Linked DNA regions of Homo sapiens: all the other regions are reported to be linked to region 2. The links are microRNA targets in miRTarBase. Many come from high-throughput screens and were not tested one by one. Region 2 holds a microRNA gene; each other region holds the end of a gene's coding sequence. Distances are between the middles of the regions.
The links. The annotated mature microRNA hsa-miR-570-3p reads CGAAAACAGCAAUUACCUUUGC and lies in region 2 at 1,393-1,414, opposite strand. An mRNA with a match to its seed (bases 2 to 7 or 8) in the 3' UTR can be bound and repressed. Matches are read on the target gene's strand: a 7mer-m8 pairs with bases 2 to 8, a 7mer-A1 pairs with bases 2 to 7 and ends in A, and an 8mer does both.

Region 1 (3,126 bases), not on the chromosome of region 2:
GAACATTAGGTCGCCCACAATTGCACAACAAGAATGAGGATTCTCACCTGGCCTTAGAGTCTGCTTCCTCGGGCCTTCTCCTGCAACCACCTGCCCTTTTGGCCCACACCAGGGACAGGGAGGTGCTGGCAGCTGCTGCCTTTGGTGAGAGAGAAGCAGAGGAGGTCCTTGCCCGAGATTCCCCACGTCAAAGTTGGGAGCCTCTAGGAAACCTGTCCCCATGCCTCCCTCTAAGGTGTCACATTGCCCCCCTTTCAATTCTGCAGGAAGTGGTGTTGTGGCGGAAGGGTGACATCGTACGGAAGAGCATGTCCCACCAGGCGGCCATCGCCTCACAGCGCTTTGAGGGCACCACCTCCCTGGGTGAGGTGCGGACCCCCAGCCAGCTGTCTGACAACAACTGCAGGCAGTAGGCCCCCAGGGCCGAGAAGATGCTGGGCACCCACCCAGCACCCCCATCTACCAACACCAGCGGCTGGGGGCGGGGGCGGACCTTGTGAGGCTCAGTTGACCCGTTACTTGCAACCTGAAAACAAATCATGTTTTTGACTTAAATTCTTTTCTCTGGAGAACCCAAGGGGCTTGGGGTGGGAAGCAGTCTCTCCTTGGGATTCTGCGGCCGATGTGGGATAGAAGAGGTAGCATCCTGGAAGCCAGCCTCTCTGGGGAACATGAGCCCCCTTCCTCGGGGGGCTGCCTTGCGTCTTAGAGGAGGGAGAGCAGAGAGCACGCATCCTTGGCTCCTGGCTCTCTGAGCTTCCTGATACAGGATCTGAGCATGTCCCTGGGATTCTGAGCTGCCAACAGGGCCCTGGGTAGTCACATCTTGTACTCCCCTTTGCTGTCCCGGAGGTAGTGGCAGGAGTTGGGCCAGCCCCCACTAAGTGGCAGGGGAAGACTCACGATTGGGAAGCTACCTCTTTGGGAATCTTGGATGTGGTGATCTCAAGTTCCCACAGGCCACCTCCTTCTGGCCACTCACTGCTGGGACCCAGGCACCTCCCTTCTCCATCCTCTCTGGATTGTCAGTAATGTCCTGGAACAGAAGCCTGTGGGATGGCCTTGGGCACGGAGAAGCCCTGGGGTCAGTGTCGTGCACGGATGGCGGCAGTGTTGAACCCAGGAGGCTGAACCCGGCCCACCACGGAAGATGAGTGCATGGCAACCGCCTGCCTTCACGTCGCTCCACTTGGTAACCCCAAGGTCTGGGCTGTTCTAGGTATTGCTTCACGTGCCCCAGCAAGCCCTTAACAAGAGGGCCTGGTTCCCTGAAGAACCAATCCCAGGAAGGGGCCTTGATCCCTCCGCCTTGCTGAGAGTGAACCCTCGTCTCTCCTCACCCTCCATTTCATTTCTGGGAATTGGGGCTTAGTTTCGAACCTTTGGCAAGGCTGTTCTTACTAATGCCCAAGCCCCTTTACCCCTCTCCCTATAGGTTACACAGGGGAGACCAGGGCCTCGGCAGAAGACTGCTGCCACACTTCCGAATCATTCTGCTTGCCAAATAGGTCATCTTCACCAGTTGACTGACCCAAGTTTAGGACCATTGGTATCGTGTGTTTAAAAAACACATATAAAAAAACTCTTGTGAATATTCTTGTTATGCTAGAGAGGAAGGTACTTCTCCCTCTACGGCTCTGCGCTGGGGCCTATGGTAGTAAAGTTGTTTACTGTCCTTTTTCTGCTTCCCCTGGAAATGACAGGCATTACTCTCCCATTGGCCTCCCTTCCCTTTATAGAAAGACCAAGCAGGCCCCACTGGCCAAGAGGTACGGTATTTGGCAGTCTGAGTTCTCAGTAATTTGGAAAGTTAAGGAGTTGGTTCCTGTGTCACCTTTCAGTTAGTGTGGGAAAGGAAGACTTCTGTTTTCCTGAGATCAGTGCAGTCTCAGGCCTTTGGCAGGGCTCATGGATCAGAGCTGAGACTGGAGGGAGAGGCATTTTGGGTAGCCTAGGAGGGCGACTGGCGGCAGCAGAACCGAGGAAGGCAAGGTTGTTTCCCCCACGCTGTGTCCTGTGTTCAGGTGCGACACACAATCCTCATGGGAACAGGATCACCCATGCGCTGCCCTTGATGATCAAGGTTGGGGCTTAAGTGGATAAGGGAGGCAAGTTCTGGGTTCCTTGCCTTTTCAGAGCATGAGGTCAGGCTCTGTATCCCTCCTTTTCCTAGCTGATATTCTAACTAGAAGCATTTGTCAATTCCTTTGCCTCCCAACTGACAACACACGTTCATTTTCCAACCTTCCTAACATCTTAAACCTTTCTTCTGGGAGAACTAGAAGACAGAATTTGCTTTGATTCTCTCAGGCGCTGTGCACAAGCCAGGTCTTCTGTTTTCTCTTTCTTACTCTACCCACATTCTTGCCTTCTCTATCCAACTGTGAAAGTGAGGGGAGGCTCCTGTCCCCCTCTCTTAAGGTCCCCAAACCTGGGAGTGCATAGGTACTAAATCAAGCAGTGCAACTTGTAATTAAGCAGCTGCAGTGTTTACATGTTTCTTAATGTGTCATCTTTTCAATGGCTGTATTAAAAGAAGAACGTTTGTTTTAATGGTCTTTCTGATTAAAGAAAGCCCCTGTGGCTTTGGAGGCATTGTGCCCACGGTCCACCAAGTTCTGTGGTCTCTTCCGTCTTACATGGTCCCAACTCCGACACTCAGGGAAAGACAGATCCCTGCCCTGATTTCCCTACATAGTGCCTGTGCTCTCACTGTATAGCCCCGGGTGAAAAATGATGAATACTTTATTAGCCACCTGTTTGAGACAAGCACATGGCTGAGAAATGAATTCAGTTCTTATCCCTATCTGGCAGTTTATCCAGAACTGCTCATGGGATGGTTTAAACCTCTGTGGGACCCAGAAGATGAAAGGGGCAGGTGAGCAAGGCTGGTGTAGAAAGAAGAGTTCATTCCAGTGGGTGTTACCAGACTGAGGATCTCAGCCCTACGTCATGCAATTTGCTACAGAACTACTAGTGATCGTAAAGAAAGAAGGTGGAGGCAGCTCTGCATCTGGGAGCGGCCAAAGGAGCCCGCCTGGAGGTAAGAGGTCTGCAGTGGGGAGTATCCCACTGCACTCAGTGTGGTTTTAGAAGAAAAGTTCTTCAACTTTGATATTTTATTGA
Region 2 (3,139 bases):
TCCCAGAGTGGCTGCACCACTTTAAATTCTCACAGCAGTGATTGAGTGGTACAGTTCCTTTGCATCCTTGACAATAGTATTGTTACTATTTTTTATTTTGGTGATTCTTTTTTTTTTTTTTTTTTTTGAGACATAATCTTGCTCTGTCGCCCAGGCTGGAGCGCAGTGGCATGATCTCAGCTTACTGCAACCTCCGTCTCCTGGGTTTAAGCAATTATCTTGCCTCAGCCTCCCAAGGTGCTAGGACTACAGGCGTGTGCCACCACACCTGGCTAATTTTTGTGTTTTCAGCAGAGACAGGGTTTTGCCATGTTGGCCAGGTTGGTCTTGAATTCCTGATCTCATGTGATCTGCCTGCCCCAGCCTCCCAAAGTGTTGGGATTACAGGTGTGAGCCACCATGCCTGGCCTTATTTTGTTGATTCTAACACGTGGTGATATCTCCTGGTTTAAAGAAGCGTTTCCCTAATGGTATCAAACATCTTTTCATGTGCTTATTTGCAATCTGTATATCTTCTCCAGTGAAATGTTGCTTTGTATCTTTTGCTCATGTTCTAATTGCATTCTTTGTTTTGTTACTATTTTAAGACTTTTAAATGTATTCTAGATACTAGTCCTTTGCAAATATAGTCATGCATCGCATAAGGACATTTTGGTCAATGACAAACTGCATATAGGATGCGGTCCCATAAGATTATAATAATGGGCCTGAAAAAATTCCTGTTGCCGAGTGCAATGCTACTCATGTGTCTAGTGATGCTCGTGTAAAGCTACTGTGCTGCCACTTGCATAAAAGCACAGCGCACACCATTCTGTACAGTACACAATACTTGATAATGATAATAAATGTGTTCCTGGATAGCACAGCACACACCATTCTGTACAATACACAATACGTGATAATGATAATAAATGTGTTCCTGGTTTATGTATTTACTATAATATACTATTGATCAGTGTTTTAGAGTGTACTCCTTCTCTCTATAAAAGAATTAAGTGAACTAGCAGGCCCTTTGGGAAGTACTGTAGAAGGCATTGTTACCACAGGCGATGACAGCTCCATGTGTGTTATTGCCCCTGAAGACCTTCCAGAGAGACAAAATGTGGAGGTGGAAGACAGTGATACTGATGACCCTGACCCTGTGTGGATCTAGGCTAACATGTGTTTTTGTGTCTTAGTTTTCAACAAAAAAGTTTAAAAAGTTAAAATACTAAGTTTATAAAGTTAAAAAGTTACAGTAAGCTAAGGCTGACTTATTGAAAAAATGTGCTTATACATGTAATATAGCTAAGCTGGCTTTTGCAAACATAGAGTCCTGTGGATGTTATGCTGACTTCGGCTTGGGGTTTTTCACAGAGAGAAGCATGGCAAGGGGGACTCCATCAGGTTGGTGCAAAGGTAATTGCTGTTTTCGCAATTAAAATAATGGGAAAAACTGCAATTACCTTTGCACCCACCTAATAACTTATCTAGGGGACTCTTTCTCCACCCAAAACCCAGGACACTTGGCCCACAACTACATCACCACCCCAGGGTTCCAGGACACTTGGCCCATGACTACATCACCACCCCAGGGTTCCAGGACACTTGGCCCACAACTACATCACCACCCCAGGGTTCCAGGACACTTGGCCCATGACTACATCACCACCCCAGGGTTCTTTACTATAGTTTTCTTGTTCTTCCTTCAATTACGTGTGACATTCCCAACTCCAAGATTCTTCCAGTCCTTCTCTCCCCCTTCATCTAAAGCAGGCTGTCATGAGTTTCTGTCAGCTGCAATCAAGAGTCATGACTCTTACAGTGGGTAGGATTACTCCCTTTTTTGTTGTCATTAAGGAAACCTGTAAGAGGAAAAACAAACACACTTTATGTGGAGAGACAGGGAAAGTTGTTCTATTCAGTCTGGAATCTAGTCCCTCAGCTGGTGGTCCACCTTCGGATTCACTGGTCTTGGGAGTAAGACGGTGCCTTGTAGTCAAAGAAGTGAGGAATTCTGGTGCCTCCTGAGGGTGGAACTGAGGAGAGGAGACGTGAGAGAGGATGCTGGAAAGGAGGAAGCAGCCAGAATGTGTAGGGCCTTTGTGGCCAGGCCAAGGAGCCTCAGGGAATATCTGAGCGTCTTAAATAGGTCAGAGGGCAATTCTGAAAACAAACTCCTTCTACCTGCTGTGTAGGCAATGAGTTGTCATTGTTAGATAGAGGATAAAATGAACCCAATTAGATTATTGCCATCATTCCAGTGATTGAAGATGTTGATCTGTAATAGGGTAATGGCCATACACTTTCGAGAGGAAAAATGTTCAAATTTAGGGGATAATTAGAAATCTGCACTTACAGCCCTTGGTGACACTTTTCCTATGAGCCAAACGGAGAGGGGGAGAGAGAGAGAAGGTGGACAGTCACCGACATATGAGGCAGTGGAAGAGGAACAGGCATGGATAGGAAGAGAATTGTGGGACACACTGGGTTCGAGATGCCTGTGTGAGACAGTCTCATGAATATGTCCAGTAGTATATTGACCAAGCAAGTCTGTCAGGAGCCTCTGGAAATGAGGTACAGAATTTGATAGTCATCACTATGGAGATGGTAACCTGAGCCGTGAGAGAAGCTAAAATCCCCGGGGAGAGGATGTAGAATGAGAGGAGAAAATGGGCCAGGACAAACACAAGGAATGCTCGGAGGGAGGGGCAAAACCAGAACAGTACAGCGTCCCCAAACCAAGGAAAAGAATGTTGCCAGAAGAGGAGAGTCAGGCTGTTTCAAACTCTGCTAAGAAGTGAAGGATGTTGCATATTGAGTAGAGTCCATTGGGGTTACCAGTCAGGCTGACTCAGGGATCCTCTTTGGCAGAAGTAGTTCCAATGAAGTGGGAGGAGGAAGGGAGGAGCAGAGGCCAAATGAGCGTGAGGAGTGTTTAGGAGTTGACAGAAAGTGTATCCACTTTTTTGAGACGTTTAGCCAGGAAGAGGGAGAGACATGGGGCAGTAGGTGGAGGAGGAGATGAAATTAAGGGAGTGTATGGAGTTTTAAAATGGAAAGCTTGATCCTGTTTAAATGCTGTTTTATGCCCCTACGAGGGCGAGGTTAAACATACAGAATAGAGGCATAACTGATAGAGCCAAGACTCCCACCCAGG
Region 3 (3,125 bases), 5.7 Mb from region 2:
GTGATGAAGTCCCTGCCCCTCCCCTAGTGCCCATCGCACCCAGGAAGTGGGAACTTTAAGGAGCCAAACAAAGACTGTTTCTATGTTGATGCCTTGTTGCCAGAAAACAGAAATCAGATCCTCACCCAGATCCTCCAATCAGCAAATCTGAGTGCCAACAAGCTCTTCACAGTGGGAGGACAAATAGCAATCTACCTTTGCAAAGCTCAAGAACTTTTAGGTCTAAATTTGGGTTTACGTTTTTAAAAATCAGGTACACACATAAAAAACCCATTCACGGCCGGGCACAGTAGCTCACACCTGTAATCTCAGCACTTTGGGAGGCCAAGGCGAGTGGATCACCTGAGGTCAGGAGTTCGAGACTAGCCTGGCCAACATAGTGAAACCCCATCTCTACTAAAAATACAAAAATTAGCTGGGCATTATGGCAGGCGTCTGTAATCCCAGCTACTCAGGAGGCCGAGGCAGGAGAATTGCTTGAACCCGGGAGGTGGTGGAGGCTGCAGTGAGCTGAGATCACACCACTTCACTCCAGCCTGGGCGACAGTGAGACTCCGTCTCAAAAACAAAACAAAACAAAACAAAACCATTCACAACTCTCTAAATGTTAGCAGAAATAAATTTGGTTGTGACTATTTCTAAAATGGTTTTGGTTTCTTTTTTTTCTTTTTGCTTTGTTTGTATTTTGAGTAGGAGGGAGGGCCTTGTTACAATCAATTATGTCATTTTCAGAGAAGGGAACTAAAGTCTGGAAAGGGAAAGAGAGTAGTTCCATATCACACAGCAGGGCATATTTGATAGAACTGGGAGGATAATCCAATGCTCTTTCCACTCTCCCATGATTAAAATACAACCAGAAGGTTCAGTAAAAAACAGATGGTTCATACATCACTAACTCAAATTTTCAATTTCAATGGATGAATGTTCTTACCACTCACCAGATTGTAAACGGCAGAAAGTAAATCTTCCCTCCACCACTGCCCGTCATAAAAGCATGTGATCTCCCACGGGCGAATGATAAAGTCTCCCCTAGGTTAGAAGAACCCCATCCCCCATGAACTATGCCTTTGTAGTGTCTTTCTTAGAAGTGGGACCTGGAACCAAGCATTCTCTGGATCAATGCCCAGTTTGGTCTCCATCTCTGTTCTTCAAGAGCAGTGTCCCCACCTTTCCTGAGGCCACTGCACCAGCAACACTAGTCATGTCCCAATGTTGCCCCTAAAGTGGTCCCAAAAGCTCCTATGTAATTACAAAACCATTCTGTGAAGATAAAGCAAACATTTGGGAGAACAAAAATAAATGCCAGATATTAAAATAAGCCTCCCTTTATTAAACAAATCAGACACAAGCACAAATCTGTGTGCTGGATAGCAGCAATGAGGAGGGGCCCCCAAAATATAAGCAGATGACGGTTAAAATCAATCAGAAATTTATTTTTCTTATGTAAGTACAAAACACCTCTTTTCATCAGTGGACCCCACTCCTAGGCAACCTGGCCATGGTGCCCGGATGCAGGCAGTATTCAAGAGTTTCTTCCAAAGTCACCAGGGTGAAAAGCCATTCTACTACAACCTCTACATGACCTTTTAAAGTGTACAACTTATAGGACAGTCCTTTCTGGAGTACTGTGGAGGGTGAATCAAAGCTTCCAGTGTAAGTTTATTGTCTGGCGAAAACACCAGAGCCAAAAATTCCACCAAGGCCCTGGAAAGACTGAAGTCCCCTCTGTCTCATACAGTAATCATCCATGAGATCTCCCGGAGCCTGGGTGATCATTACGCCCATGATACCTGAGGCAGCGTGGACTCTGCCAGGGGCTCCTCAGACCCAAAGTGGAGCTCACTTTGGAGAGTCGGAGCTCATGGCCGTTAGCACCTAAGGATGTGGCTGAAAGGCACAGAGCAAGAAAGGGCTTCAGAGACCAGGCACAGGTTAATTTTAGAACTGGAGCACACGTGAGAGTTGTAGTTTCACCACCAAGAAGCTTATTCTCTCTAAGCTTTTGAATTTGCAGCAACTTAATTGTGTGTGTGTGTGTGTGTGTGTGTGTGTGTGTGTGTGTTTGGGGGAGGAGGTGAACTGGGCTTTGATAGATACATGAAATGATGAAAAACCAAGAAAGAGAGCTGGGTGTGGTGGCACGTGCCTGTGGTCCCAGCTCCCCGGGAGGCTTGAAGGATCGCCTGAGCCTAAGAGTTTGAGGCTCCAGTGTGCTATCATCACATCTGTGAATAGCCACTGCCCTATATCCTAGACAACATGGTTAGACCATGTCTCTAAGAAGAGAGAGAGAGAGAGAGAGAGAGAAAACAACCCAAAACAAGAAAGATAGATTGATAGATTGAGGCAACACAAGCATCCTTAGGAAGAGAAGGAAGATCTGATGACTGACATTAACCTGTTAATTTATACCATGGCTCTGTACAAAAATAAAAAGGTTCTCATAAGATTAACAATTTAAATAAATATTTGATAGAACATTCTTTCTCATTTTTATAGCTCATCTTTAGGGTTGATATTCAGTTCATGCTTCCCTTGCTGTTCTTGATCCAGAATTGCAATCACTTCATCAGCCTGTATTCGCTCCTGCAAAAAAGACAATTTACACATTTCTGTTACAAGCATAATAATCAGTCTCATCAGCAGACGCTTCCCAAACACTTCCTGGCATCCATCTGTACATGGGTTGATGCTATATCCAGTTAAGCATTGAACACCTCCTCTTCATCCCCAGACAGATGCCTTCTCCTAACATTCCTGGGTCCTAAGCAATTACTTTCTAAGATTTTCTCTCCTGCAAAGAACGACTGTATGTTCAACTGCTTCCTACTCTTTCTAATTCATGGCCCCATAGCCATCTCCAACTCAGTTCAGTGGTCAAGCTGAATTCACCATTTTCTCCCCAAGAACCTGCTCTGTTCTTCACGTAGGCTCTCTCTCGGTAAAGACCAACATCGCTCACCTATTTGCCTTAAAAGCCCGACCATGGTTTCCTGCATCTGATAAGTCACCTATTCTGTTCTATCTGCTGTCTCTGCCCCTTTCTCCTCAATGCACTATTGTTGCCGGAGTTTAGGTCAGGGTTTCTCAATTTTGGTCTGATTGACATTTTTAGACCAGATAAT
Region 4 (3,139 bases), not on the chromosome of region 2:
TTATTATTATTTTTTAATAGAGACAGGGTCTCACTATGTTACCCAGGCTAATCTTGAACTCCTGAGCTCAAATGATCCTCCCACCTTGGCCTCCCAAAGTGCTAGGATTACAGGCATGACTCACCACCCCTGGCCTCAGTGTGAATGTTAAAATAGTCACCAAAATCGCTGTATGGTGCTGGTAAAGAATCCTGGGCTTTACAGGATACTGACAAAGGATAACAGTGTGTCTGTTCACCATTTCAAGTGGCACCACTACCTGGCAAATGCATATGCAGTTTACAATGTGCCAGTTTTGAAATTTTGTAATTCCTGCCGATTTTTTTAGGCTATAAGTATGTGAATTACTTCAAATTTTGAAAACAAAGTGAGCCTTTATTAATATTAGATCAACTTTTAAATCCATATAATTCAAGTCTACAAAAAGTGCAAATAAACTATAAATCCTTTAAAATTTCTTTTAAAAATTAATCTACCTGATTCCAGGAGTGCAAAGATGATTTAATGTGGGAAAATCTATTAATATACCTCATCAAAACATCAAATGAGAACAATTATATGAATGCTTTAATAGATGCCCAAATGGTATACTGTTTAAAGTTCCAGAGCCATTTCTAATTCAAACTCTTTAAAAACTAAAAGAGAGACACTGTCTTTCAGATAAAGACTATCTAACTCCCAACAGCAAACTTAAAACTATGGACATTCCCATTAAAATAAGAAAAAAAAATGTCTAACATCATTATTGTTAACATTGTCCTAAACATTTCAGATAACAAAACATGCAATAAAAGTGAAATAAAACTATCAGAAGAAACACTATCATTATTCACTGATGATACTGAAGTTTTTCCTAGAAAACCCAGAACTTACTGAAAAAAGTATTTGAATTAAGTGACTACACACCAGGAAAATATCAATTTATCGTCTGATAAGACTATTAAGTATATACCTATCATGTCTCTCCACATATCTCCACTACTATTACCTGGACTCTAGTTAGAATCACTATTATTTTTTTGTCTGGATCACTGCATCAGGCTCCTAATTGGACTGGCTTCCCTATCTCCAGCCTGGTGAGATTTTACACACTAAGGAGATAGTGATGTTTCTAAAACCAAATCTGATCATGTCATTCCTTTGCTTAGATCTTCTCATCGATTCTTATCATATTTAAAGTAAGATCCAAATTCCTTATTATAGCCTTATTTATGTGGCTCTATACAACGAGGTCTTATATACAGAAATGCCATTCTTGACACTCTAGCTGCATTGTCCTTTTTGTTCCTCAAACATACAAAAGAGGCTTTATGTTTGCTATTCACTCCACCTAGGATGTTCTTTCCTTGAATCTCACAAGGATAGCCCATTCTAAAATGTCAATCACATGTTATCTTAAATGTTACTTCTTTAAGAGGTCTCTTTGGCCGTGCAGCTTATAGTGGTACGGTGCGGCACAGTGCAGTGGTATAGTGGTGAGCATAGCTGCCTTCCAAGAGGTCTCTTTGATCGTCCAGTCTAAAATAGCCACTCATTCACTATCTCATAATCACCCTACTTTAATTTCCTCCACAGAATCTAAAACTCATGGTCTGATACTTTCCCTGGACATACTTAGTATCTCCTCCCCACTAATGTCACCTCCATGAGAGCAAGAACTCTGTCTTAATAACTGCTTATCTCCCAACACTTAAGTGTCTGACACATAAGAATCACCAAATAAACATTTGGATTTTAATTGTCTGTCATTCTCAAAAGACTATAAGCTCTACTAAACAAGAACTAGGCCTATTTTGTTTGTTGTTCTCTCTCTAAGACTCTGGCACAGGGTATACATTCAATATCGAATGAATGAATGAATCCCTTCCCTTCCTATAGTCCCTAGTATTCTAAGACTGGGCAAACGTTTTTGGTGATGTCAAAACATTGCTAGTCTATAATGAGCTTGTAGCCAACTGATACTGTAACTAAATCAATTTATATGAATTATATAAAATTAAATATCTCCACCTCTATCCATTCCCCAAATTCTACACTGATGTAACTGACTTCTTAGGCTAAACATAGAGCTTTAAGTTTGATGGCCTTCTTGAAATTAACTTTTAAAATGCCTTTGTCAAAAAATACTTATAAGAAAATAATGGGGCAAGGAAGTTAAATCTTTTAAGCCCTGACCCATAAATTATTTAAGTAGCTGGCAGACAAGAGACCTTCTTTAAAGTGATATTAACAAAAAAAAAATTTGAGGTACTAAAAAGTTAATCTAACTTGTCAGTGTATACAGAAATGACCACTCTTTGCTGAAACTAACAAAGCCACAAAGAACTGCCTCTTAAGTGTTTAAGATACTGCATCACCATTTTGATTACCCAAGAGTTACTCATTAAATATGACACAGAGTACATAGCTGCTGGTTTGCAGGCACTCTTAAGTATCTAATTACTTCAAACAAAAGGCTACATTCTCAATTTTTTATATTTTGTTTTTATTCAAGAGTTACTCACAGGCAGCACTTTAAAATTAGGCTTTTTAAATTAAAGGCCAAAACTAAAAAAGTTTGCAAATATGACATTACTAAAAGAATGATAGCCTTAATAATTTAAACTCTAAAATGTCCGTCCTGTGGAGTTAAGGTCTTTATACACAGAATGTGTAAGATCGATATCATTTAAAATAAACAACTGAAAAACCACAGATGGTGGGTAAATTTGTCAATGAAGATAAACATCAGTTTCAGCCTTCTAGAGTATGAAAACCGGCAATTAATTAATCCTGTGACAGAATATAAACTGTACTTCAGAATTTTGACTTTAAAGTCTCTTTCTCCAGCAGCAAATCAGCATATCTATGTTGAAGTTCCTTTTCTCTTTCTTGTTGTCGCTGAACGTCTTCTTTTAGACACTTAAAGAAAAAAAATTAAGTAATTATTTTAGATGTAACTATACTGAAAAAAATCTACAGTACTTTATTATCTTAAAAACCAGCTGAGTTAAATCATGATTCTTAAGAGTTAAATATTTCTCAAAGAGAAACAAACATATCAAATACTTTTGCTATAAAACCAGTATCACAGCCATTCTTTGATTTGGTCATATGAAATCCTGCTGCTACTTCAAATAAACAAACCACTACTGTCTTA

Region 1: the mRNA of VPS26B is a reported target of hsa-miR-570-3p. Seed matches in the 3' UTR shown: 7mer-m8 at 1,865-1,871 and 7mer-m8 at 2,335-2,341.
Region 3: miRTarBase lists P3H2 as a target of hsa-miR-570-3p. Seed matches in the 3' UTR shown: 7mer-m8 at 2,306-2,312 and 7mer-m8 at 1,672-1,678.
Region 4: miRTarBase lists CDC5L as a target of hsa-miR-570-3p. Seed matches in the 3' UTR shown: 7mer-A1 at 2,750-2,756 and 8mer at 358-365.

What each region holds. Positions count from the first base shown.
Region 1 is chr11:134,245,178-134,248,303 of GRCh38, forward strand. VPS26B (VPS26 retromer complex component B) reads left to right here. Exons shown (of 6, transcript NM_052875.5): 6 at 267-2,611. The coding sequence ends at 413. It overlaps THYN1 (thymocyte nuclear protein 1), which reads right to left. Exons shown (of 7, transcript NM_014174.3): 7 at 3,105-3,126. Among named protein-coding and RNA genes, the nearest start is that of THYN1, 6.6 kb to the right of the region's middle.
Region 2 is chr3:195,697,735-195,700,873 of GRCh38, reverse strand. It overlaps MIR570 (microRNA 570), which reads right to left and starts at 1,473; the gene lies at 1,377-1,473. All of the region lies in intron 2 of MIR570HG (MIR570 host gene), which reads right to left. It overlaps LOC124909477 (a long non-coding RNA gene), which reads right to left. Exons shown (of 2, transcript XR_007096227.1): 2 at 1,804-1,844.
Region 3 is chr3:189,955,419-189,958,543 of GRCh38, forward strand. P3H2 (prolyl 3-hydroxylase 2) reads right to left here. Exons shown (of 15, transcript NM_018192.4): 15 at 1,310-2,586. The coding sequence ends at 2,494. Among named protein-coding and RNA genes, the nearest start is that of MIR944, 130 kb to the left of the region's middle.
Region 4 is chr6:44,446,369-44,449,507 of GRCh38, reverse strand. CDC5L (cell division cycle 5 like) reads right to left here. Exons shown (of 16, transcript NM_001253.4): 16 at 1-2,901. The coding sequence ends at 2,797. Among named protein-coding and RNA genes, the nearest start is that of MIR4642, 12 kb to the right of the region's middle.